Homo sapiens: one gene and its partner. The protein of the gene in region 2 purifies or fractionates together with the protein of the main gene of each other region. This does not show direct contact. Each region holds a gene or a part of one and is shown on either strand. Other genes may lie near its edges. The genes, in order: NPLOC4 and ALG10B.

Evidence for each region.
Region 1: the proteins of ALG10B (region 2) and NPLOC4 purify together in Homo sapiens (affinity purification with mass spectrometry; 2 studies listed by BioGRID and IntAct, with this or other methods). This does not show direct contact.

The regions. Positions count from the first base shown.
Region 1 is NC_000017.11:81,631,542-81,643,721, reverse strand, and holds the start of NPLOC4 (nuclear protein localization protein 4 homolog), read left to right. Parts: upstream 1-6,609; 5' UTR 6,610-6,791; coding exon 6,792-6,806; intron 6,807-12,180. Other genes in the region: TSPAN10 (tetraspanin-10), read right to left, coding at 1,274-1,309. UniProt on the Homo sapiens protein: The ternary complex containing UFD1, VCP and NPLOC4 binds ubiquitinated proteins and is necessary for the export of misfolded proteins from the ER to the cytoplasm, where they are degraded by the proteasome.
Region 2 is NC_000012.12:38,307,956-38,320,058, reverse strand, and holds the start of ALG10B (dol-P-Glc:Glc(2)Man(9)GlcNAc(2)-PP-Dol alpha-1,2-glucosyltransferase), read right to left. Parts: upstream 3,286-12,103; 5' UTR 3,166-3,285; coding exon 2,995-3,165; intron 1,799-2,994; coding exon 1,601-1,798; intron 1-1,600. UniProt on the Homo sapiens protein: Dol-P-Glc:Glc(2)Man(9)GlcNAc(2)-PP-Dol alpha-1,2-glucosyltransferase that operates in the biosynthetic pathway of dolichol-linked oligosaccharides, the glycan precursors employed in protein asparagine (N)-glycosylation.

The DNA of each region.
Region 1 (12,180 bases), on a different chromosome or scaffold from region 2:
AGCCTCAAACTCCTGGGCTCAAGCCATCCTTCCTCCTCAGCCTCCTGAGTAGCTGGGACTACAGGCACTGCAACCATGTCCTGGTAATTTTTTTTTTTTTTTTTTTTTTTTGAGACGGAGTCTCGCTCTGTCGCCCAGGCTGGAGTGCAGTGGCGGGATCTCGGCTCACTGCAAGCTCCGCCTCCCGGGTTCACGCCATTCTCCTGCCTCAGCCTCCCAAGTAGCTGGGACTACAGGCGCCCGCCACTACGCCCGGCTAATTTTTTGTATTTTTAGTAGAGACAGGGTTTCACCGTTTTAGCCGGGATGGTCTCGATCTCCTAACCTCGTGATCCGCCCGCCTCGGCCTCCCAAAGTGCTGGGATTACAGGCGTGAGCCACCGCGCCCGGCCGTCCCGGTAATTTTTTAAAATTATTTTTTGTAGGCCGGGCACGGTGGCTCATGCCTGTAATCCCAGCACTTTGGGAGGCCGAGGCGGGTGGATCACGAGGTCAGGAGATCGAGACCATCCTAGCCAACATGGTAAAACCCTGTCTCGACTAAAAAAAATTAGCTGGGTGTGGTGGCATGTGCCTGTAATCCCAGCTACTCAGCAGGCTGAGGCATGTGAATTGCTTGAACCGAGGAGGCGGAGGTTGCAGTGAGCCGAGGTTGTGCCACTGCACTCCAGCCTGGTGACAGAGCGAGACTCTATCTAAATATATATATATATATATATATATATAATATTTTGTAGAGACAGGGTCTCGCTACATTGCCCAGGCTGGTCTTGAACTCCTGGGCTCACGCAATCTTCCCTCCTCAGCCTCCCAAAGTGCTGGGATTACAGGAGTGAGCCACTGTGCCCGGCCCCAGAGGAGGGTTATTTATCACCCCCAAGACCTCAACAAGTCACTAGAAGCAAAAGGACAGGCTGTCAGTGCCTGGTTGGCCAGACTGGGGCCACTGGGGGCCAGAGGCCGTTGGAGGCTGGCTGCAAGGGACATTTGCCTTCACCCCCTCCTGCACCCTGAGCCAAAGATTGCCCCCAAGGCCCTCAGGGAGATCTGGCAGATCCCTTGACCAGAGGCCAGCATGGGGCTGAGAGAACTGCGCAGTGGGGAAGGGGGAGGGGGCTGCCTAGAACCACCCCCCTCAACCCAATCTCAGCATTGAGGTGTGGGGTGGCACCAGGGGCAGGGGTGGGTGTGAACCCAGCCCAGGGACTTCCCTTAGGACTTCAGGGCTGGGGACATCTCCAACCTCAGGGCAAGGCCACTTGGCATGGCTCACCTGGGACAGTAAGGGGCTCCTCTCCCCCTCCTCCATCCTTGACGCTGGAACAGAAAGCCCCCAGCACAGGCGCCGGGAGAGGTTCGCTGGCTCCTCTGTGGCTGGGCTGCTGGGCTGGTCCTGACTGCGGCCCTGGGCTAGTCTGTGAACAGTGCAGCCCTGGGCATGGGAATGGGGGAGGTGCGAGCCCTACCCAGATGCCGGAGTCACAGTTGAGTCATGTGAAGAATCACATTTTAGAGCTTAAGGAGGCCTCTGCTTGTGGAGATATATTTCTCCCCAGCCCTGGCTCTGTGGGTCCCCTAAGCTCAGCGCAGGTGTGACTCAGGCAGGCATGTTTGGGTGCCAGCCTTGTGGCTCTCACTGCAGCCCCCCATGCGGACTTCAGCTCTGCAGGGTCAGCAGCCGCTCCATCAGCTCCCAACCAGGGAATCAGACCCTGGTAAATTGGTTCACAACCCCAATCCCAAGAGACCCATGGGCAGCCCCAGCGCCAATCTATCCCCCGGCTTGTTCACTGCACGAATGAAACAGCGTCCCCCCACCAGATCACCTCCTTGTTTTTGTTTTTGAGACTGAGTTTCGCTCTTGTTGCCCAGGCTGGAGTGCAATGGCGCAATCTCGGCTCACTGCAACCTCGCCTCCCGGGACTACAGATGTACGCCACCTTGCCTCACTCATTTTTGAATTTTTTTTGTAGAGACAGGGTTCTGCTGTGCTGCCCAGGCTGGTCTTGAACCCCTGGACTCAAGTGATTCTCCTGCCTTGGCCTTCCAAAGTGCTGGGATTACAGGCTGGAGCCACTGTGCCCGGACTCAGCCACCAACACTCAGCAGTCCAAAGAGGTGGTCTGGGTGGTGCAGCACAGCAGGCAATGTACTGATGGAGCAGGCAGAGGGTTTCAGGCGCGCGTGAGACGCCTGGGTGGGAGCACACCGGGCAAGTTTTAGGAGGAAAGGTCACCTGGCTGTGTGGGGCAAGCGGAGATGGGGGTGGGAGGGAGGTCCATGAGGTGACAGGGCTGGATCAGGTGAGGCCTTGAAGGCCACTCTGAGTCTTCAGATCTTCCTCGGAGAAGTGGGATATGCTGCAGGTGGGAAGTCGGGGCGAGGACCAGAGCTGCAGGCTGAGCTTCTGGGCTCCAGCTTCCCTTCACCTCCCCAAAGGTGACAAACCCAACCTCATGGGCCCTGCAGCAGCTCCACAGCCAGGGTCACGGTCACAGGGACTGTCCACGGCCTCCAACTCAGTCTGTTCTAAGGATGGGTAACCTTTTTTTTTTTGAGACAAGAGTCTCGCTCTGTTGCTGAGGCTGGAATGCAGTGGCACGATTTTGACTCACCGCAACCTCTGCCTCCTGGGTTCAAGCGATGCTCCTGCCTTGGCCTCCTGAGTAACTAGGATTGCAGGCGCCACACCTGACTGATTTTGTATTTTTAGTAGAGATGGGGTTTCACCATGTTGGCCAGTCTGGTCTCGACCTCCTGACCTCAAGTGATCTGCCCGCCTCCTCCTCCCAAAGTGCTGGGATTACAGGCGTGAGCCACCACGCCCGGCCAAAGTCTGGGTAATCTTTTAATGAAACGATCATCATCTACCACTGTTATGGCTGAATTGTGCCCCTTACATTCTTATGATAAAGTTCTAGCCCCCCGGACCTCAGAATGGGACTTGGAGACAGGGCCTTTAAAGGCCATTAGGGGCTGGGCGCGGTAGCTCACACCTGTAATTCCAGCACTTAGGGAGGCCGAGGCAGGTGGATCATGAGGTCAGGAGATTGAGACCAGCCTGGCCAACATGGTGTGACCCTGTCTCTACTAAAAGTACAAAAAATTAGCTGGGCATCGTGGCGCATGCCTGTAATCCCAGCTACATGGGAGGCTGAGGCAGGGGAATTGCTGGGACCCAGGAGGCAGAGGTTGCAGTGAGCCGAGATGGTGCCGCTGCACTCCAGCCTGGTGACAGAGCAAGACTCCATCCCTAAATAAATAAATAAGTGCCATTAGCGTGGGCCCTAATCCAACATCCTTACAAGAAAATTGGGACACACGGTGGGACACATGGAGAGACACGAGGAATGTGTGCACAGAAGAAAAAACATGTGAGGTCTCGGGGAGAAGGTGCCATCTTCGAGCTAAGGAGAGAGGTATAAGAAGAAACCTGGCTGGGTACAGCGGCTTATGCCTGTAATCTAAGCACTTTGGGAGGCTGAGGTGGGTGGATTGATTGAACCTAGTAGTAGTTAGAGACCAGCCTGGGCAACATAGCAAGATCCCATCTCTACTAAAAATACAAAAAGTTAGCCAGGTGTGATTGTGAGCACTTGTGGTCCCAGCTACTGAGGAGGCTGAGGTGGGAGTATCACCTGAGCCTGGGAAGTCGAGGCTACAGTGAGCCACGATTGTGCCACTGCACTCCAGCCTCGGCGATGGGAGTGAGACCCCAGTCTTTTCTTTTTTTTTTTTTTTTGAGACGGAGTCTTGCTCTGTCGCCCAGGCTGGAGCGCAGTGGCGTGATCTCGGCTCACTGCAAGCTCTGCCTCCCGGGTTCACGCCATTCTCCTGCCTCAGCCTCCCGAGTAGCTGGGACTACAGGCACCCGCCACCACGCCCGGCTAATTTTTTTTTTATTTTTAATAGAGACAGGGTTTCACCATATTAGCCAGGATGGTCTCGATCTCCTGACTTCGTGATCCACCTGCCTCGGCCTCTCAAAGTGCTGGGATGACAGGCGTGAGCCACCGCGCTGGGATGACAGGCATGAGCCACCGTGCTGGGATGACAGGCGTGAGCCACCGCGCTGGGATGACAGGCGTGAGCCACCGCGCCCGGCCAAGACCCCAGCCTTAAAAGAAAAAAAAAAGAAGAAAACAAAGGAGAAACCACGTCTACTGACACCTTGATCTGGGATTCTAGCTTCCAGGACTGTTAGGAAGTAATTCCAGGCCGGGCATGGTGGCTCATGCCTATAATCCCAGCACTTTGGGAGGCTGAGGCGGGTGGATCACGAGGTCAGGAGATCGAGACCAGCCTTACCAACATGGTGAAACCCTGTCTCTACTAAAGATATAAAAATTAGCCGGGCGTGGTAGCGCACGCTTGTAATCTCAGCTACTCAGGAGGCTGAGGCAGGAGAATCGCTTGAACCCACGAGGCGGAGGTTGCAGTGAGCTGGGATCGCGCCATTGCACTCCAACCTGGGCGACAGAGGGAGATCCGACTCAAAAAAAAAAAAAAAAAAAAAGAAAAGTAATTCCAAACCACCACCCAGTCTGTGAGAGATTTTGTTATGTTATATTTTCTTATAACTGAGATAATTATTACAGTTAAAGAGATCGGACTTAACTGAACCCATCTTGCTTCTAACCTCCAAGCTGTCCTTGTTCATTCCTGGGTGTAGGCTGAAATAACTTCGGGAGGCGCTTAGTTTATAGTTTAGCTTTGAAACAAAGATGGTAACAGCCCTTTGCAAAACAAACTCCCTTCCTACCTGGGGACAAGACTGCCTTTTCAGGACTAACAAATTAGCCATAAGATTAGAAATTATGGTTTAGGAGTCATGTAGCTGGAGGCTACAAGATTCTAAACCTCCCAAATTGCTTCTCAGGATAACATCACTATTAAAAAACAGATCAGCGCTTGAGATATTTTGCAGACTCTGCACTCCATGGATCAGCTGGCACCACCCAGATTGATAAACTGGCTCATATCTTGTGGCCCCCACCCAGGAACCGACTCAGCACAAGAGGACAGTTTTGACTCCCTATCATTTCACCTCTGACCCAACCAATCAACACTCCCTACTTTCTGACCCCATACCCACCAAATTATCCTTAAAACCGCGGATCCCCAGCCGGGCACGGTGGCTCACGTCTATAGTCCCAGCACTTTGGGGAGGCCCAGGTGGGCGGATCACCTGAGGTCAGGAGTTCAAGACCAGCCTGACCAACATGGAGAAACTCCGTCTCTACGAAAAATACAAAATTAGCCAGGCATGGTAGTGTGCGCCTGTAGTCCCAGCTACCCGGGAGGCTGAGGCAGGAGAATCACTGGAACCCAGGAGGTGAAGGTTGCAGTGAGCCGAGATCGCGCCACTGCACTCCAGTGTGGGTGACAGAGTGAGATTCGGACTCAAAAACAAAAAAAAACAAAAAACAAAAAACTCTGATCCCTGAATTCTCAAGGACACTAATTTTTTTTGAGTAGTAATAAAACCTCAGTAACCTGTACAAGCTGGCTCTGTGTGAATTAAACTCTTTATTGCAATTCCCCTGTCTTGATAAAGTCTAGGCAGTGGGCAGGGACAATATGTTGGGTAGTTACAGTGGCACCCTGAGCAAACTAATACAATTACTAACATAATTTAATCAATTAATGTAATTTAACATAGTTTAAAAAAACTGTCACAGTAATTGTGATGTTGTGAAATATGTATACATTTAGTCTTCCGGTTTCCTGGTATCCAACTCCAAAAATCCTTAGAATCTGTGAAGTGACGTCTTTTTTTTTTTTTTTTGAGATGAAGTCTCACTCTGTCGCCCAGACTGGAGTGCAGTGGCACCAACTCAGTTCATTCTAACCTCCGCCTCTTCGCTTCAAGAGATTCTCCGGCCTCAGACTCCCGAGTAGCTGGGATTACAGGTGCCCGCCACCACGCCCAGTTAATTTTTGTATTTTTAGTAGAGACGGGGTTTCACCACGTTGGTCAGGCTGGTCTTGAACTCCTGACCTCAGGTGATCCACCTGCCTCGGCCTCCCAAAGTGCTGGGATTACAGGCGTGAGCCACCGCGTATGGCCTAATTTTGTATTTTGAGTAGAGACGGGGTTTCACCATTTTGGCCAGGCTGGTCTCGAACTTTTGACCTCAGGTGATCCGTCCACCTTGGCTTCCCAAAATGCTGGGATTACAGGTATGAGCCACCGCGCCCGGCCTGAAATGCAGTTTAAACTCGTTTGTTTTTCTTATGTTAAATTTAAAAAATACTTAAAAAAAAAAACATGAAGGTGTGATCCTGCCTTCCTGAAATTGTTTCTCTACTTACCTGTGCATGGAGAGAAGTTTGGAATGCTGTTTCCCCAATTATAATACGCTATAATACGCAGCAGTAGTTATTTTTGGGTGAGACTTCGGATGCTCGTCTTTGCTTCCTTTTTGGACTTTCCTGTGCCGCTTGGGTTTCCGAGGACGAGCAGAAGTAATCTCAGACGCAACTTTCCAAAATCCCCTCCTCCAGTTGCAGGGATGGCGGGGGCGGGTCAGCGGCGCCGCCCTGCGCATGCGTCGAGCCGTTGGTGGGGCCGGAACCTGGTTTCCCGGCCTCGCGCCCGAGGGGAGCGTATTGAGCGAGGCACCGGGACGTCGGCGGCTGGCGGAGCCGGGCGGGCGAAGCTGGAGCGGCGGTGGCGGCGGCGTAGGGAGGCCGGGGCCGGGGCTGAGGCCGCGGCCGGGTCTGCGAGGCCCTTGGGGCGGCAGGCGGCGGCGGCCCGGGGCTCGAGCCCGGAGGCAGGAGCAGCCGCCATGGCCGAGAGCATCGTGAGTGCGGCGGCCGGGCGGGAGCGGGGACGCCGGGATGAGGCAGCAGATTTGCCGGCCTCGGCCTGTGGGGGAGGCGGGCCTGCCGGCGCCGCGACTCGGCCCCTTTCTCTTCTCTCGCCAGGGCTTTCTCTGTAGTGGCTGGGCCCCTCTCGGGGACTTTCACCCCCCTCGGCTGCTTCCCGTCCGTGTCCCTCCCCAGGGGACTTACGACCCCGGTTCCCCGCCCTGGGCAGGGAAAGGCCGAGCCTTTCTAAGCAGGGAGAATGGACTGTGGCGAAGAGAAACCGCCCTCCTTCCCCACCCGTTTCCCGGCTCCAGGAGACTTCCTGGTCTAATTCCAGGGACTCCCAGCCAGTCCTGCCCCTCTCAGAGCCAGGGACACCTCTTATCCTAATCTCCCTCTGATTCTCTCCTCCTGCTCTCCCGCTTCCCAGCAAGTGCCTTGTCATGAGTCACTAAGGAGAGCAGCTCTGCAGACGGGGACGTTACAGAGCTCCCTCCCCACCAGAAGACCTGGGAAAATGAAAACACAGTAACTTGCCGGCTTTGCTCCTTACTTGGAAGGACAACTTGACAATTCCTCTTTAAAAGGAATGTTGTAAATGATGTTGATTTCACTTTTTACCTGAAATTGAAATTGTCGGCCCGGCGCAGTGGCTCACGCCTGTGATGTCAGCACTTTGGGAGGCCGAGGCGGGTGGATCACCTGGGGTCAGGAGTTCGAGACCATCCTGGCCAACATGGCAAAATCTTGTCTCTACTAAAAATACAAAAAATTAGCCGGGCGTCATGGCGCACTGTAATCCCAGATACTTGGGAGGCTGAGGCAGGAGAATTGCTTGAACGCGGGAGGTGGAGGTTACAGTGAGCTGAGATCCCTCCATGGCACTCCAGCCTGGGCTATAGAGCGAGACTGCGTCTCAAAAAAAAAAAAAAAATTGTCACACACTCCTCCTTAACGTAAAAAATATCAGTGACAAATCAGAAAACCAGTCCCTCGTTAAGTTGTGAGAAGTTTCTTCCCAAAAGTAAATGTGATGGGAAAAAAACTAACTGACCATTGGACAGGAGCATTTTGGTTAATATTAAGGAAGATTTGGGATTTCTGGGGGAAGCTTAGCAGTATTGGGTGAAGAGTAATGTTCATACTGTAGCATTGTGACAGTCTCTGCAGTTTTGCCAGGTGTTGTCTAGAATAGGTCTCCAGGCCCGGCGCGGTGACTCACACCTGTAATCCCAGCACTTTGGGAAGCCCAGGTGGGTGGATCACCTGAGGTCAGGAGTTCAAGACCAGCCTGGACAACATAGTGAGCCTAGGTGGCGTCACTGGACTCCACCCTGGGCGACAGAATGAGACTGTCTCACACACACAAACAAATGGGTCTCCAGGAGAACCTAGCACTTATTTGCAAGGCTGTTCTCTGGTGGTTCCATCATCTCTCCAGTCAGGGGCCCTCTTGGTGCCTCCATGTTTCCCAACCTGGAGATGAGTGGAATGAATATATGGCCCAGGAGAAACTTAGGAAACGTCGACTCCTTTTTTTTTTTTTTTTTTAACCTTATTTTATTTTTTTGAGATGGAGTCTCACTCTGTCGCCCAGGCTGGAGTTCAGTGGTGCGATCTCTGCTTACTGCAACCTCCGCCTCTCGGGTTCAAGAAATTCTCCTGCCTCAGCCGAGTAGCTGGGGTTGCAGGTGCTCGCCAACACGCATGGCTGATGTCTTTTTTATTTTTAGTGGTGATGGGGTTTCACCGTGTTGGCCAGGTTGATCTCGAACTTCTGACCTCGTGATCCGCCCGCCTTGGCATACCAAAATGCTGGGATTACAGGCATAAGCCACCGCGCCTGGCCTTTAAATCTTTTTAATTAAAAACATTTTTTTATAGAGATGAGGTCTCTACTATGTTGTACAGGCTGGTCTCTGAGCTCGAGGGATCCTCCTACCTTGGGGTCCCAAAATTGCTAGGATTACAGTCCTGAGCTACCATGCCCGGCCAAGAAACCTTTGACTCCTTTGAAAAATAAAATGTGGCCATGCAGTGGCTCACGCCTGTAATCCCAGCACTTTGGGAGGCCGAGGTGGGCGGATCACGAGGTCAGGAGTTCAAGACTGGCCTGACCAACATGGTGAAACCCTGTCTCTACTAAAAATAAAAAATTAGCCGGGTGTGGTGGCATGCACCTGTTATCCCAGCTACTCTGGAGGTTGAGGGAGGGGAATCGCTCAAACCCGGGAGGTGGAGGTTGCAGTGAGCCCAGATTGCGCCACTGCACTCCAGCCTGGGCGACAGAGCAAGACTGTCTCAAAAAAAAAAAAAAAAGTGTTAATCATTGGTGACTTTGCCTAGAAATAGGTTAGGAATTAGCACTGAAACCTTCTTTCAAACTACCTTTGTACTTTTAACTGAGTTAAAATAACCATTGACAAGTGAAAAGTGTTTCAGACAAGGCCATTTTTTTTTTCCCACTAGTGTATAAGGCTAGGCTCTCATTGACAGCATTGGATCTCGTTGAATGTCTCAGATTGTGAGGAATTAAAACACTCTTCTTTTGAAATTGATTTAAAAAGTTATTTTGAATTTAAGAAAGAGATCTTTTGAAAAGTTTCTGGGCTGGGCATGGTGGCTCACACCTGTAATCCCAGCACTTTGAGAGGCCGAGGCAGGTGAATAATGAGGTCAGGAGTTGAGACCAGCCTGGCCGACATGGTGAAACCACGTCTTTACTAAAAATACAAAAATTAGGGCGTGGTGGCTCACGTTTGTAATCCTAGCACTTTGGAAGGCCGAGGCAGGTGGATTGCCTGAGCTCAGGAGTTTGAGACCAGCCTGGGCAACACGGTGAAACCCCACGTCTACTAAAAAAAAAAAATACAAAAAATTAACCGGGCGTGGTGGCGTGCACCTGTAGTCCCAGCCACTCAGGAGGCTGAGGCAGAAAAGTTAGAACCCGGGAGGCGGAGATTGCAGTGAGCCGAGATCGCACCACTGCACTCCAGCCTGGGTGACAGAGTGAGACTCTTAAAAAAAAAAAAAAAATTAGCTGGGCGCGGTGGCGGGCGCCTATAATCCCAGCTACTTGGGAGGCTTGAGGCAAGAGAATTGCTTGAACTCGGCAGGCAAAGGTTGCAGTGAACCGAGGTCGCGCCATCGCACTCCCACTCTGGGTGACAGAGCAAGACTCTGTCTTGGGGGGAGAAAAGAGTTTCTGTGGATTTAACTGTATCTCACCAGTTCTTCAACTTCCCCAAGAAGCGTTCTAGTCTTATTTTCTTATAAATAGGGAAACTTAAGTTACCAAGAGGCTGTGTGTTCATGTTGTCAGGTCTGTCTCTTCCTGTGTATTTCATTTTGTAGTCTGTGTCAGAGGCTAGGCCAGAACTTTCCATCGTACAAATTATGTTTGTCTCTTGTTAAATACTGGAGTTGGCCTTGGAAACCTGGACTCCCATCTTCTGTGGTAGAGGATCAAGTAGGATGACTTCTTCACCTTAGAATTCTGCAGCCTGAACCATTTAGCTCTGTAAAGAATGGCGGTAACATGCTCTTGTTCCAGAGTCATCGTTTGAAGGAACATTCACATGTTCCCCTTCATTAGAACAGAGCTTTCCTTTTTAAGATAGCTAAGTGTTGGCAGACAGATTTTAGAAACAAATAAGTGGAAGTATTTACCTAATGCTATATATTGTGAAAACGTTTTTCTGGGGTATTGAATCTAGAATGAAGTATACTAGACGTTAGAAGTATAAAGAATTGTATTTCTTTTCTTTTTTTTTTTTTTTTTGAGACGGAGTCTTGCTCTGTCACCCAGGCTGGAGTGCAGTGGCGCGATCTGCTCACCACAAGCTCTGCCTCCTGGGTTCACGCCATTCTCCTACCTCAGCCTCCCAAGTAGCTGGGACTACAGGCGCCCTCCACCACGCCTGGCTAATGTTTTGTATTTTTAGTAGAGATGGGGTTTCACCGTGTTAGCCAGGATGGTCTCAATCTCCTGACTTAAAAGTTGAGAACATATTGGGTGGAGCCTTTTCTGCCAAGTGAAAGTTATGGGAAAATGCAGGACAGGGTTATCCTATTTTAGGAAAATCTAGATTAGGCTTAGTTACTTTACTAAAAGCGGACAAATCCCAGTAGACTGAGCCTTTATGGTGTTTTGTCCTGTATCAGTGGAAATCTTTTTTAGACAATGGCTTGTGACAGTTTTCATCTGCATAATGGTTGAAGAGGATGTTTAATGTAACACTCGTGGTAACCTCACAGAAAATAGTTATAGAATTTATGAAAAAGGAAATAAGGGAGGCCGGGTGTGGTGGTGCACACCTGTAATCCCAGCACTTTGGGAGGCCCAGGTGGGTGGATAACTTGAGGTCAGGAGTTCGAGACCAGCCTGGCCAACGTGGTGAAATCCCATCTCTACTAAAAATACTAAAAATTAGCCAGGCGTGGTGGCAGGCACTTGTAATCCCAGATACTCAGGAGGCTGAGACAGGAGAATCACTTGAACCGGGGAGGCAGAGGTTGCAGTGAGCCGAGATCACGCCATTGCACTCCAGCCTGGGCAACAAGAGCTGAAAAAAAAAAAAGAAATAAAAAAGGAAATAAGGGAATTGAAATGTTTCACTATAAAAAATCAGCTAGGCCAGGGTTGGTGGCTCATGCCTATAATCCCAGCACTTTAGGAGGCTGAGGCAGGTGGATCACCTGAGGTAGGCGTTTAAGACCAGATTGACTAACATGTTGAAACCCCGTCTCTACTAAAAATACAAAAATTAGCTGGGCTTGGTGGTGCACGCCTGTAATCCCAGCTGCTCAGGAGGCTGAGACAGGAGAATCGCCTGAACCTGGGAGGCGGAGGTTGCAGTGAGTGGAGGTTGCAGTGAGCCGAGATTGCGCCACTGCACTCCACCCTGGGCAACGGAAAAAGACTGTCTCAAAAAAAAGAAAATTAGCTGGGTATGGTGGTGGGCGCCTGTGATTCCAGCTACTCAGGAGGCTGAGGCAGGAGAATCACTTGAACTCAAGAGGCAGAGGTTGCAGTGAGCCAAGATTGCGCCATTGTACTCCAGCCTGGGCCACAAGATTGAAACTTCATCTCGGGGAAAAAAAAAATGAGCTAAATACAAGAGATGGTAATGCAGGAAATGAGAGAGAAAGAAGCTATAGAATGCACCATCAGTCTTTGCTGAGAGGAGAAGCTAGGACACTTATGCGCATGTTCCTGTCTGCCTTCCTTCCCGTCCCGCGGATGGTTGGAGCAGGTCTTTGTTTGCTGCAGAGCATGCCATGTCATCCTCCTTGTCTAAAGCAGGGGCCTGTGCTGTTGGCCAGGCATGATAACTCACCTTCACGATGGCTTTCATCAGCATAAAC
Region 2 (12,103 bases):
TTATTTAAATAAAATTAATCAATATTAATCTTATCTCTGGCTTTGCAAAAACACAATAAACATTTATAAGAACACTTCCTGGTACTTTTTATTTATACCTATCAGTTTGGAGACCGTGTGTATGCCAAAGCTTCTATAGCTTAACACAATTTGAATCAGGCTATGATTAGTTAAGGAGTTACTGAGTGCAAGATACCGACTAAGTTCTGTGGGGACTATGGAGATAAATAGGACACAATGCTGGCTCCATTTCCCTGAGCTTATGTTTTAGTGCCTTCAATAAGGATTCACTTAGCCATAATCACCACTTTCCTTTAAGGAAATCCTTCATAACACTACACAAGGGAGAATGTAAACATGCATATGGTATTTATTTTACCATATCCAGACTTACTTTTTCAAGATGATATTTTCATGATGAAATAACGGTATTTTTCTGAAAAGTGAGCCAGTCTAAACTTATATATCTTATTTTGGCCTTTCTGACATGCTATTTCAGAATTTGAAAGTGTTCTTATGTTCTTGAATTGTATACTCCACTTAATCTAAATCACTAAATCAGACCATGTCATTTCCTTGATTAAAATTAAGGTCTCTCCATTACATGCTAAAGTTCAAAGTCCTCTCTGTGACATATGAGGGCATTCATGACCTACTTCTCTAGCCTTACATCCCTCTACTTTCTAATCCTGTAATTCCAAGACCAATTCCCTGCACCTCATTGTTCAATGCCTTTCTTCCTTTGCTTATGCTGTTTGTCTCCCCAGGATTAATTCCTCACCCTACACAGCCCTATCCGTTCATCAGGACTCAGCTCTGGTACCATCTTCTCTGTGAGGACTTACTGAATGCCACATACTCCTCTCCCTCCCAGAAAAGCAGTAAGTGTTTCCCTGCTCCTTCTCTGTGTCCTCATAGCATCTTATGTCTACTACTCTATCATAATTGACACTACTGAAATAATCTCTTAAGGTTAAAAATAATTATTAGAGTTAATATTTACTGAGCCCTTACTATATATCTGGCACTATTTGAAGCATCTTCCATTTATTAAGTTTCCTTGTTCCTTTATAACAGTTCTATAAGGCAGATTCTATTGTTATTCTTATTTAACAGATGAAGACATGGAGCCACTAAGGGTTAACCTGCCCACAGTAACAAAACTGGTTAAGTGGCAGGGAGAGAATTCTAACCCAGGCAATCGACCTCCGGGGCCTGCACTATTACCACATCAAAAGTCCTCAGGTAAAGTCTGTTTTCCCTACTGAATATATACGTTTTACAAGAAAAAGACTGCCTCATTTATCTCTGTAGTCCCAGTCCCCAGCACATGGAATAAGCTCAGTAAGTATTTATTGAACTGGTTTGACTCACTTAACAAATATTTACTTTAGAGTTTACAAATAAGTTATTCAAGTATTTAAATACAAATTTATTCTAAAATGGAGATGGAGAATTTAAATTTACCTTTACATAATATACAAAAAATACAAAGTTACAAAGTGTTAAAGACATTTTTCACCAAATCTCATAAAACTAATTCATTGTAATTGTGGACCTGACTACACATAAACTTGTAATTAAGTATTTTGAAACATACCTTGTTTCTGGGTTGTACCTTGTGGAAAAGCAAATATAGTAAATAGAAGTTGCCAACACTGAAGAGAAGATTAACAAATCTGAGCATCCCAATGGAGCAGACAACATGTTCAGACCATGCAAAGATCCAAATGGCAGGTTTGACCACTCCAACTGACACCAGGTACAAGCCAGGTAATGTAGTAATCATGGGATCCCACTTTAAAATGAAAGAAAATGAAGTAAAAGCAAGAGGTAATACGAACAAGACAGACACAAATATGTCAAGCCCAAGTCTCATCTCCAGCAACAATCAGAAATTTTGAGAAGTTAGTCTATGACAAGATTAAGTAAGTCCTTGGCAGAACAGGATTAGTTTTTCTTATTTTTTGCCCCCGGACCAGCTTAGTGATGGTTCAGGTAGCAGCAACCAATAAACAACAACTTAAAATCTATTTCTATTTTCCAAGAAATGTTCTTTAAAAGCCTTTATTTTGATAAATAAACTGCAAATGCTCCAGTTTTTAAAAGCATGGAAACATTGTTTGGGACTCTAAGTTTAGGAAAACATTTGGACCACAGGCTCCATGATGACAGCTGACATAAACTGAGACAGAAATTGTGCCAAACCCTCTGTATTGTAACATTACAATATGCCCTATAGTAAAGATTATTGTCATTTTGCAGATGAGTAACCTGAATTTCTGAAACTCAGAACATCTCCAAGATCACAAAACTAGTAAATCACAGCACCAAGATTTAAGATCAGATCTTTCTCTAAAACAGACTTTATATTTCTAGCCAGTACCCTATATTGTGTCACCAGAAAAGCAGGGGATGTTTATTTTGATATTTATATGTACATACTTGCACAGTCAAATATATATTCAAAAATGATGTGACTTGACTGGTTGCCAGTTTATCCAGTCAACAGATAGTTCACTAAAAATACCCAGGGAAGGAATTTGTGATTATAAATTGTCACTTTTTGGTAGCCGAAGATCCCTCCAGTCCACCCTATCCCACCCCTAAAATGCACAGTGAGGTGCTTAACAGGTGAGCTAAAGGGAAGTTTTCTGATATTTCCAAGGAGCACCCGAATGCCTTTAATCCTGAGACAAGGAAAAACAAAGTGGGATCGATATTGTCAGCTGCCAAGAGGAGCGCTCAGTTCCCCACTAAGTATTCTCCCAGATCACTCCTCCCTGGGGATCAGATCTGCTGTTTATTCATTCATTTAATAAATATTTCACAGATCTCAGAGACAGGAACAAAAGACTATACCCAGTTTCTTTCATGTTCTGAGGCTGGGGTGGGGTGGAAAGGGACGAGTTAAGTCTAAAGATGGGAGAAGGAGCTGGGGACGCTGGGACCTTTCAGGCCTCTCCTGGGGTGGGGACAGGTTGGGCACCCCACCTGGGAAAGGGAGAAATGGCCCTCACAGTAGCGCTGCGCCTGAGGCAGGTGGAAGATCTCGTCCATGTAGGGCTCTCGCAGCGCCCGGCTGAAGGCGGAGAAGAGGAGGCAGGACACTAAAAAGGTACAGCTCAAGGCGGCCGAGAAACAGTAACCCTCTAGCTGCGCCATTCCTGCTCCCACAGCCACTGCCCAAGAACCCACTCCTGGAAAATTCTGAGCCCGGAAACCCGAGCTGGAAACTTGGGCTCGAAATGGGCGCGCTAGACAGGACTAGCCAGACGGGGCCACATACCGGAAGGCAAAGGATGCTGGGAGAGCGCGGATCCGGAAAACAGCGGGTCGCTGTTTCCTGGAGTGACGGGTTTAGATAACGGACCGGATGATTACCCTCTCCATCACATTACTCGGGGCGCACAGTGTCAAAACTTCCGGAAAGGGCGGGTCTCGGATTTCGCGAGCGCGGGAGGGGCGTGGCTTGCTGCTTTGGAAAAAAAAAAAAGCCGCTTCTTAGCTTGGATCTTTTTTCCTGCTCATTTCCATCACTTACCAGAAGGTGGCGACGTTTCCCCACGTTTCCAATTCCAAGCCCTAAAATTAACACATTTTTTTCCCCCGTTATTTCTTTTCTTTCTCTCCAGTGATCCGAATTAATTAAACCCTCAATTCCAAGACATTTCATTCCATCAACCTTGGAGTGTAGGAAGGGGGCGTTGGTTGTGATAGCAAAGACTGAGACTTTCAGATGAAAACTTGAAGAACCAGAGACCCGTCAATGCCGAATGAACTTCAGTGAGAGGAGTGTTTGTTCGTTTGTTTGTTTGTTTAGGTTAAGAGAGAACTCTTTCAAAATGTGGATGCTCTCAGAGGATTTAGTAAAATTGACACTCCTAGTGCACTCTCATAGCCATATTACCCTGTAGGATTTGGAAGAAAATATATATTTTAGAATTTGGGATGTTTTAGGTGTGCCTGTAAATTAGGTTGTTAATATTTATAAGGCAGCCTTCTGTTTTTCCTACTAAATCATAAGCGTGAACATCTTAGTGGGTGGCATTATACATCCTTTATGTTTGTAGTCCCCCAAATGGCTTTCACACAGTAGGCACTTAAATTTGTGGACTTTTATAGGCTGTGTAGACATCATCAAATTCCTGTATTCTGGGATTAGGTGTTGGGGGCAGGAGATGTGGTAAATAATTTGAAGAATGCCGAAGATAAATTATGTGTTGGAATTTTGTCTTGAGCATGGTTGGCCATGTTTTGTAGAAAAACTTTCTCTCAGGTAACCTCAGTCAGGTTGCCTTTGGCAGGCATATATCAGATTGAGTCGGGATTTAAGGTTGCAAACCTCAGAGTTCTCAATTGAGCTCTTTTTCTGGGTTAAAAATAATTCAGTATTTCTGAACTTAAGAAAGTTTCTTAAATCAAGCTGACTGCCTTTCCAGTCTGTCTCTGCCTGTTTCCTCAATGATAAGAGGAGGTAGTGGTGAATGAGGGCTGGGACGGGAATATTTACATTACTGGAATAAAATCATGTCAGGATTCTACTCTGATGTGATGCTTAGCTTTGCTTTAACCATCATCTCCCATTTTATTATTGATTCCATGCTGTACTTATCTGTTTAAGTCACTTGTAACACATCTCCAGATGATTCAGTCTTCAAGAGGTTGATGTGATCTACGAGTAATTAGCCCCTGACCTATTGACCTGCTAAATCGTGTTATATATACTCTGCAGCTTACTGACCCACCCTAGAAATAGTGGGCCGTTTTTAAAGGGAGTAGAACAAGACTAGACATTTATGCTCTCCATTTTTCTTCATAACAATTGCCACCAATAGTTTATGTTAAACATTTGACTCCTATACATGCTGCACACATCGCTTTACATAAAATGGAAAGTTTCAAGGAAATATAGGGTTTTAGGATGGCTAGGGATCTTTATTAATAATCTACTTGACTTCATTTTATAAAAGAAGCTGATTTTTAAAAAATGAATAATTTACCTAAAATTACATAAAAAATTAGTGTCAGAACCAAGTGTAGGAATTAGAACATCAGACCAAGAGTAATAAAATAACTTCACAGCCTTATAGGTTAAAATAATCTACAATATATACTGAATTGAATGTTTCACTAGTCCCAATAACTTTACATTTACATTCCACTATTCTCTGTTTCCATACACCAATTTGAAATACAAGTTTCATCTTTTAAAAAAATGTTCGTCTTACAGACTAATTACATCAAAATCTGCTGGGGGATCATTGTGAAAAACTAGATTCTAGAGAGCCATCTCAAATCACTGAATACTGATCTTCATATTTGGAAACGATTGATGTAAAACATATTACCTAAGAATGCTAAGAAGCTCCATGGGCCCAGTAGAGTTCTTCATAGAGTACTTCACTCATTTGTTAGTGAGTTACTTTTACTATCTGCAAATCGATGAAGCTGTTGTCACTTTTCTACTCTTAGATTACAGCATCTTTGATAATCTTGAAATGCTTTCCAAAGCTCTGCTCCTAAATCAAGACCTAGTAAAATAGCTACCTCTGGGGTTTTAATGAAATAGACTACATTTTATTAGACCTATCATTTAAAACTAGATCAGCATTGATTTCAACTTATATTTTCCATTCAGAATTCCAACTGCCATTTTCCATAGATGTTTGTGAAAAAGAGTCATTAGGATGAGCAATCCCATTATAATTGCACATCAACTATTTATTTGTGCTACTTGAATTATGATAAATAAGTTACGGCAGAAAAATGGGCAATTTCTGTTGGGGTTCTAAGGATAGGTTGTTTTAGCAAGAAATACATCTTTTTTGGTTTATAAGCCATTAAGATTTTGACTTTATTTCTCTGGTATAACCTAGCTGACTTTGATCAATTAAGACATTCCTAATTTGATGAACTCAGACAACATAGCATATACTTAACTGTTTGAAACAGCCATATCTGAACAGTGAATTTCCCCAAAGGCTGTAACTGTAATAACTTTGAAGTATTAGTCCAAGAAACACCCTGCCTCTTATTGCACCCCTTTTCACTTGTTGCTGAATGAAAACATTGGCCACTTGCTAATCAGAGTGACGGTTTACTCCTTTCTAGGTGACAATTCGTTCTAGCTACAGCAGAGTACTGCACCCTGGGCCAAAAATCACAGATGATAACCTCTAAAATGCAACTCTACCCTTGAGGTCAATCTTAACATATCAATTTAAAATCTAAATTTTAAAATTAATGAATCAATTAAAAAAACACACAACATTTTAGTACAAAAGCATTAGCAAGTATTTTAGCTCTACTGAAAATGTCTTGAAGACATTGTATAGGGGACTGGTTAAACCTAAGTAACACACACACGGAGAGACCCTTCTAAAAAACAGTAATATTTATTTGGTGAGAATACAATGAACATAGGGAGGTAAAAGAAGACAAGGGATTTTAAAAGAAAAATGAAGAGGGTTACATAAATTGCTTTGAGACAATTATCCTTGGTTACAAGGACTGGTAGAAAGGGTGGCACCAGTTTGAGGTTGGACAGGCAGTTGCTGGGCAAATGTCCTCACAGAAGTAATTTTTTGTGAGATTGTGGTGGCCTTTGTGCAAAGTTGTGGTTTGTGCAGTCTTTTGTCGTAGTTCCTGTTGTCAGGCATACACGCATATAAACCCTCCCTTTCTGGTCTTCCTTAGCTCCATTTTTCAGGGTTTTTATGCAAGTGGCCCCATTTTGATTCTGATAACTTTCATAGAACAAATCTTTCTGGTTTGTGGCAGACTTTCCAGTTTTACCCTTGAAAGTCTCAGGCCAGGTAAATTCTGTAGTATCAGACAAAGAGAATGGTTGGTGATATGGTTTGGCTGTGTCCCCACCCAAAATCTCACCTTGAATTATGATCCCCATAATCTCCACGATCCCCACGTGTCAACGGAGAGACCAGACGGAGATAATTGAATCCTTGGGGCAGTTTCCCCTATGATGTTCTCATGATACTGAGTGAGTTCTCATCTGATGGTATTATAAGTGTTTGATAGTTCCTCCTGCATTCATTCTCTTTCCTACCATCTTGTAAAGAAGGTGACTTGCTTCCCCTTCGCCTTCCACCATGATTGTAAGTTTCCTAGGCCTCTGCAACCATGCTGAACTGTGAGTCAGTTAAACCTCTTTCCCTTATAAATTACCCAGTCTTCTGCAGTTCTTTATAGCAGTGTGAAAAAGGCCTAATACACTTGGTCATTTAGAAAGATATACCATACAACCCAAAGCAAAACTTCCTAAATGTTTTTTTTTTATAACAGTGGTTCTTAAAGTGTGGTCCCTGTACCACAGCATTAGTATCACCTGGGAACCTGTTAGAAGTGCAAATAATTAAGTCTTGCCTTAGACCTACCGGAAAACAAATTCTGATAGCAGAGGGAGCCAAGTAATACATGTTTTAACGTTCATTTTGTAATCACTTATGATTCCCTTAGATTCCCAAGTGGACCTGATGGACATGAAAGTTTGAGAATACTGCTGTCCTCTACATTCCCCTTGCTTTTCTGATCACTCATGCTGCTTTGTCCCCTGGTTTCTCCAATTCTTCATCTCCAGGCTTCACCCTGCCAAGGAACAAAGTTCATTGCCAATGAACATATAGACGATGTTCCTCCTCAGCAGCTGAAGAAGAGGAACTTAAATACTTACAATTTAATGGCTTTTAGTTACATATATTTATATTCAGACAGATGGCTTTTCTTTCAAAAAACTATGCGAAGGGGAACTGTGCTTTTTGCTAAAATAAGTAGCTTAAAAACCATAGTCCTACAGCTATTGCTGCCAGTTAGATAAGAAACATTCCAGGAAAAGAAACTTCATGAATTCCTTTTCCTTTAAACTGCATAAAATTTAAGAGAATCATAAATTGATTATTAAATGAATTGCACTATTATACTGATGAAATTACAGTACTATTAAATCAACCAAAGTAAAAAGTTAGAAGAGAAGACATTGAATTAATTTTAATTCTTAAATAATTTTACAGTTTAAGAGACACAGTAATATGATCTTACTAATTTTAAAATTTCAGACGTTAGAGTGAGATTTATGATACAATTGTTATTACTGAAAATAGAGGTTTTGTGAAATATTGAGGAGGGTTTCTGGTTAATTCCCTTTTGGCTTTAGAAGCAGAGTAAAACAAGTGGGCATCCTTAGGCTGAGCATTAGGTACCCTGCACTGGCTAAAAGTTTGGCGTACATTCAGAATATTGCTCTTTAAACATGTGCATGTTCTAATTTAGTGAGAATGGAGATCACCTGACTTTTCATTAATTAAATTTAAATACAGAAACCCTCATAGAGATTTTATTTTCACCAGACAAAGCAGAAACATTGAATCAGTAGTTTCTGATCTCCTGTGGTTCCTGTTCTTTCTAGATTTCCTTTTGTTCTTGCTTCATTTTGGGTTGGTTTTCTGAATGAGGCAACAAACTGTATTAAATAATTTACATTTATTTACTATAATAAAATGAAACACTACACTGTTTTTTACTGCCTCCAAATGTTAGTTTCCATAACTGCCAAATTTCAATGACTGCAAAAATGTGTGAGAAAGGTCTCTGCATTTAAAAACGTGCTTTTTAAAAACATGTATTTCCACTAGAGGATGCTGACAACTTCAACAGAATCAGGACCAATTTGTTACTTTTGCCACCAGTTAGGTTATAGTTTGTTTACTGATTCCAGTTATGTTTTAGTTTATGTTTACTGATTGTAGTATTGTTTACTGGTCAGCACTCAAATATCCACCCAATGTGACTGCCACTCAGGATGGCTATGTTTGTAATTTTTTAAAGTTCATTATTTACAATATTAATAATTCATTACTATTATTTTTGGTAGTGAAAATATCTTACAATAGTGATGTCATCATCCAAAAAAATAATGGAAGCAGGTGAGAAACCAGACTCTGATGGAGATACAGGCACACATGGCATGATTGGCTGCCTCTGGGGAATGAACAACACACCGCACACTTATCTGGGCCCTTCAATCATGTGAAGAAAAAGCCTTAGTTCTCTGAGGAAGGTGAGATACTTCCACCCCAGGAAGCAGCCAAAGATCCTGGAGGAGGGAGAGAAGTAAAAATCTTTTGCCCTCAATGGAGTGGCAGGAAGGTCTTCAGGCCTCCATCCTTCAGTAATTCAAAGCAGAGGTATGGTGCTCCTACTGGAGAGGCCTTGAACACTCCCTGGCTCTAAAACACCATGCATGCAAGGCACAGTTTGGCTACTATAGTGAGGAGGAACAGGAACAACTTGAAAGCCCTCCATTCCCCCACTCAGGTAGGGTCTCAAGCAGGATGTGTCTACCACTGAAGATGGGCTAGGAGCACTGAACCTACCTCCTCACCTCCCGCTATGAACCTGGCTGGCCCTGAGTGACAAGAAGTCAACTGTTGAGGAATGGGACAAAGCATGGGGAGAAAAATCCCTCTGAGGTGCAGGCTTGCAAAGAGTGCTGAAAGTTGAGGATGGAGCAGGAATACTGAGAGGAAGACTTTTGACATTCAGGGCTCAGCACTTAGCACAAGATAAAAACAGATCTCCACTAGAATTTGAAGAGTGTGTGTGTGTGTGTGTGTGTGTGTGTGTGTGTGTGTCTTGATTATATTACCTAAGCACATATTTTGTAGAGTATATACCTAGGATTGTAATGAGAGTCTCATAAATTGGTGCATTTTCTAGGTTAAATATTAACAATGGGTCTTCCAAAGTGGTTGTACCAATTTATACTTCAAGCAGTATATGAGCGTTTTTCTTCTTTCATATCTTTATCAACACCTAGTATTGTTAGTTTTTTGTTACCCATTCTGGTGCATATGTTATGGCATCTCATTGTAGTTTTAATTTGTGTTTACCTAATGACGAATGAAAATAAGCTTTTTTCATATGTTTATTGGTCATTTGAATATTCTCATTTATAAAAGTTTAATTCAAGTCAATTGTCCAGTTTTTCGTGAAGAAGTCCGTCACAACCAATCCTCATGACATGTGATTACCTATGTAAAAAACCTTCACATGTACTCCCAAACCTAAAATAAAAATTAAAATAATAATAAATAAAAATAAGAAAAAGTCAAGAAATGGCAACATAGGCTTGTTATTTCAATTTACCAAGGTAACTGTCAAACTATTGAAAACAGTTAAATCTTGGAAAAACAAATCAAAGTTTGGCAAAGATAGTGACCCTTATTTAGAACAATTATAAGCTTATTGCACTTATTTTACCTTTGGAAGAAACACAGATGTTCATTTAAAAGTGTGTTTTGTGGACTGGTGCCTGTTCAGATCCCTGTATTACTATTTTTGAACATGTAAGTACAGAAATTAAGAATAAGCTTTTAGAAATTTTTATAGCAGTATGGCAGAGTAATTTTATTTTTGTAGAATTAATACTAAAAGTGAGCTTATATTTTATATGTCTGTTTTTTCTTTCACTTTTCTAACAATTCATTTTTGTTATATTTCATAGAATTATTAATCCATGATAGGTTGGAAATTTAGAATAAAACTAGTTATTTACCCTGTGTAGTTTGAGAAATGTTCTATTACCTTGCAACAAATGAAAATTTAACTTAAAAAGTAAAATAAAATAAACAACTTTGTATTATGTCCAGAAGATGTGTAAGGTGATATTTTTGACCTGGTAACTTAAAAATTTAATATAATAAATATTTAACATAGTGTTTTTGTTTGGCCAACATCATTTAGTAGAATGCTCAACACTCAACCTAAACTTAGCCCTTTCTTTTATTTTTGAGAATTCAGTGCTGAATGTCAAGAAGGTTATTTATCAAGCAAGCATAAACTAATTTGGCTTTTTGTTATGTTCCAGAACTTTAATTTTTTTCATGATTATAGGTATTCTTCATTGGTAGAGCACTCTACTTTTCCACCTCTGCAAACATGTTATCAGATAGCTCATTGCAGTGAAAGCAAATCTTAGCCAAATTCCTCAGAAAAATGGACACGTATTAATTATAATGAGGCAGAAGCAGCCAATAAATCAGTTTGTAGGTTGGAGTTCCTTCTCTCTGCTCTCTGGTATCCTGGCCAACACTTTTATGTGTGTTTCATTTCTAAGCAGATGTGATGATAGTCTTATACTACAAATGGCAAACCTTGTAATCAGCTCTTGAACTGAGACTTTTTTATTTCTCTGTCTCTCTCTTTTTTTCTTTTTTTTTTTTTGAAGTTGAGAGAAATTAAATCAATACTTTTGGCTTTCTACTGCCATGAATCCTGTTATACCATTCCCAACTATTTCCTTAACTTAAACAGCAGTAATACCGGCAATCAAAAACTTGTTTAATAAAACGTCCTATATTATTTACTACAACTTAAAATGTCTATACAGATATTTTTTGAAAATTATTTTTATTGAGATATAATTTATGCACAGTAAAATTCACACATTTTCAGTGTATGGTTCTATGCCTAATCCCTCATGGGTATAAGTGAAAGTCTTGCAGATAGATTTTCTTTAAATCCTAACTAGCCAGATACAAATAGTTGAATCAAATTAATTAATGTGTTAAATGGCTGATCAAAATATTTTTATTCAAGTTACCTATTCATAAACCTCTTATTTCTCAATGTAATATAAAATATAACAGCTTTACTGAAAATACTACATGCTTTCATTAATGAAAAATAAGTAATTATCACAAATGCATTTGGGTCAAATGCTTATGCACTTTGTAATCACCTTATGTTCAATGCCACCGACCTAGGCGAAAAGCTGCAAATATAAGAATTTCTGTGGAAGGCTATTCATTTTTTAACTTGATTATTCGTAACACCACTATTAATTATCTTTCACTATATAATTAAGAATATATAATTAATTATATTAATATATTTCAAATAATATATTTTAATACACAATAAATAATATTCTTTATGGAACATTACTACCTCAAACAGTAGAAATCAACTGTGTATTACATTCTAGCAGAAATGTAAAAAGCCACTAAACAATTAACTCCTGCACTTTTTCCTCTGCCATAAGAATGTCAGGTACTAAATAGGGATTGTATCTTTAGCCTTTGTT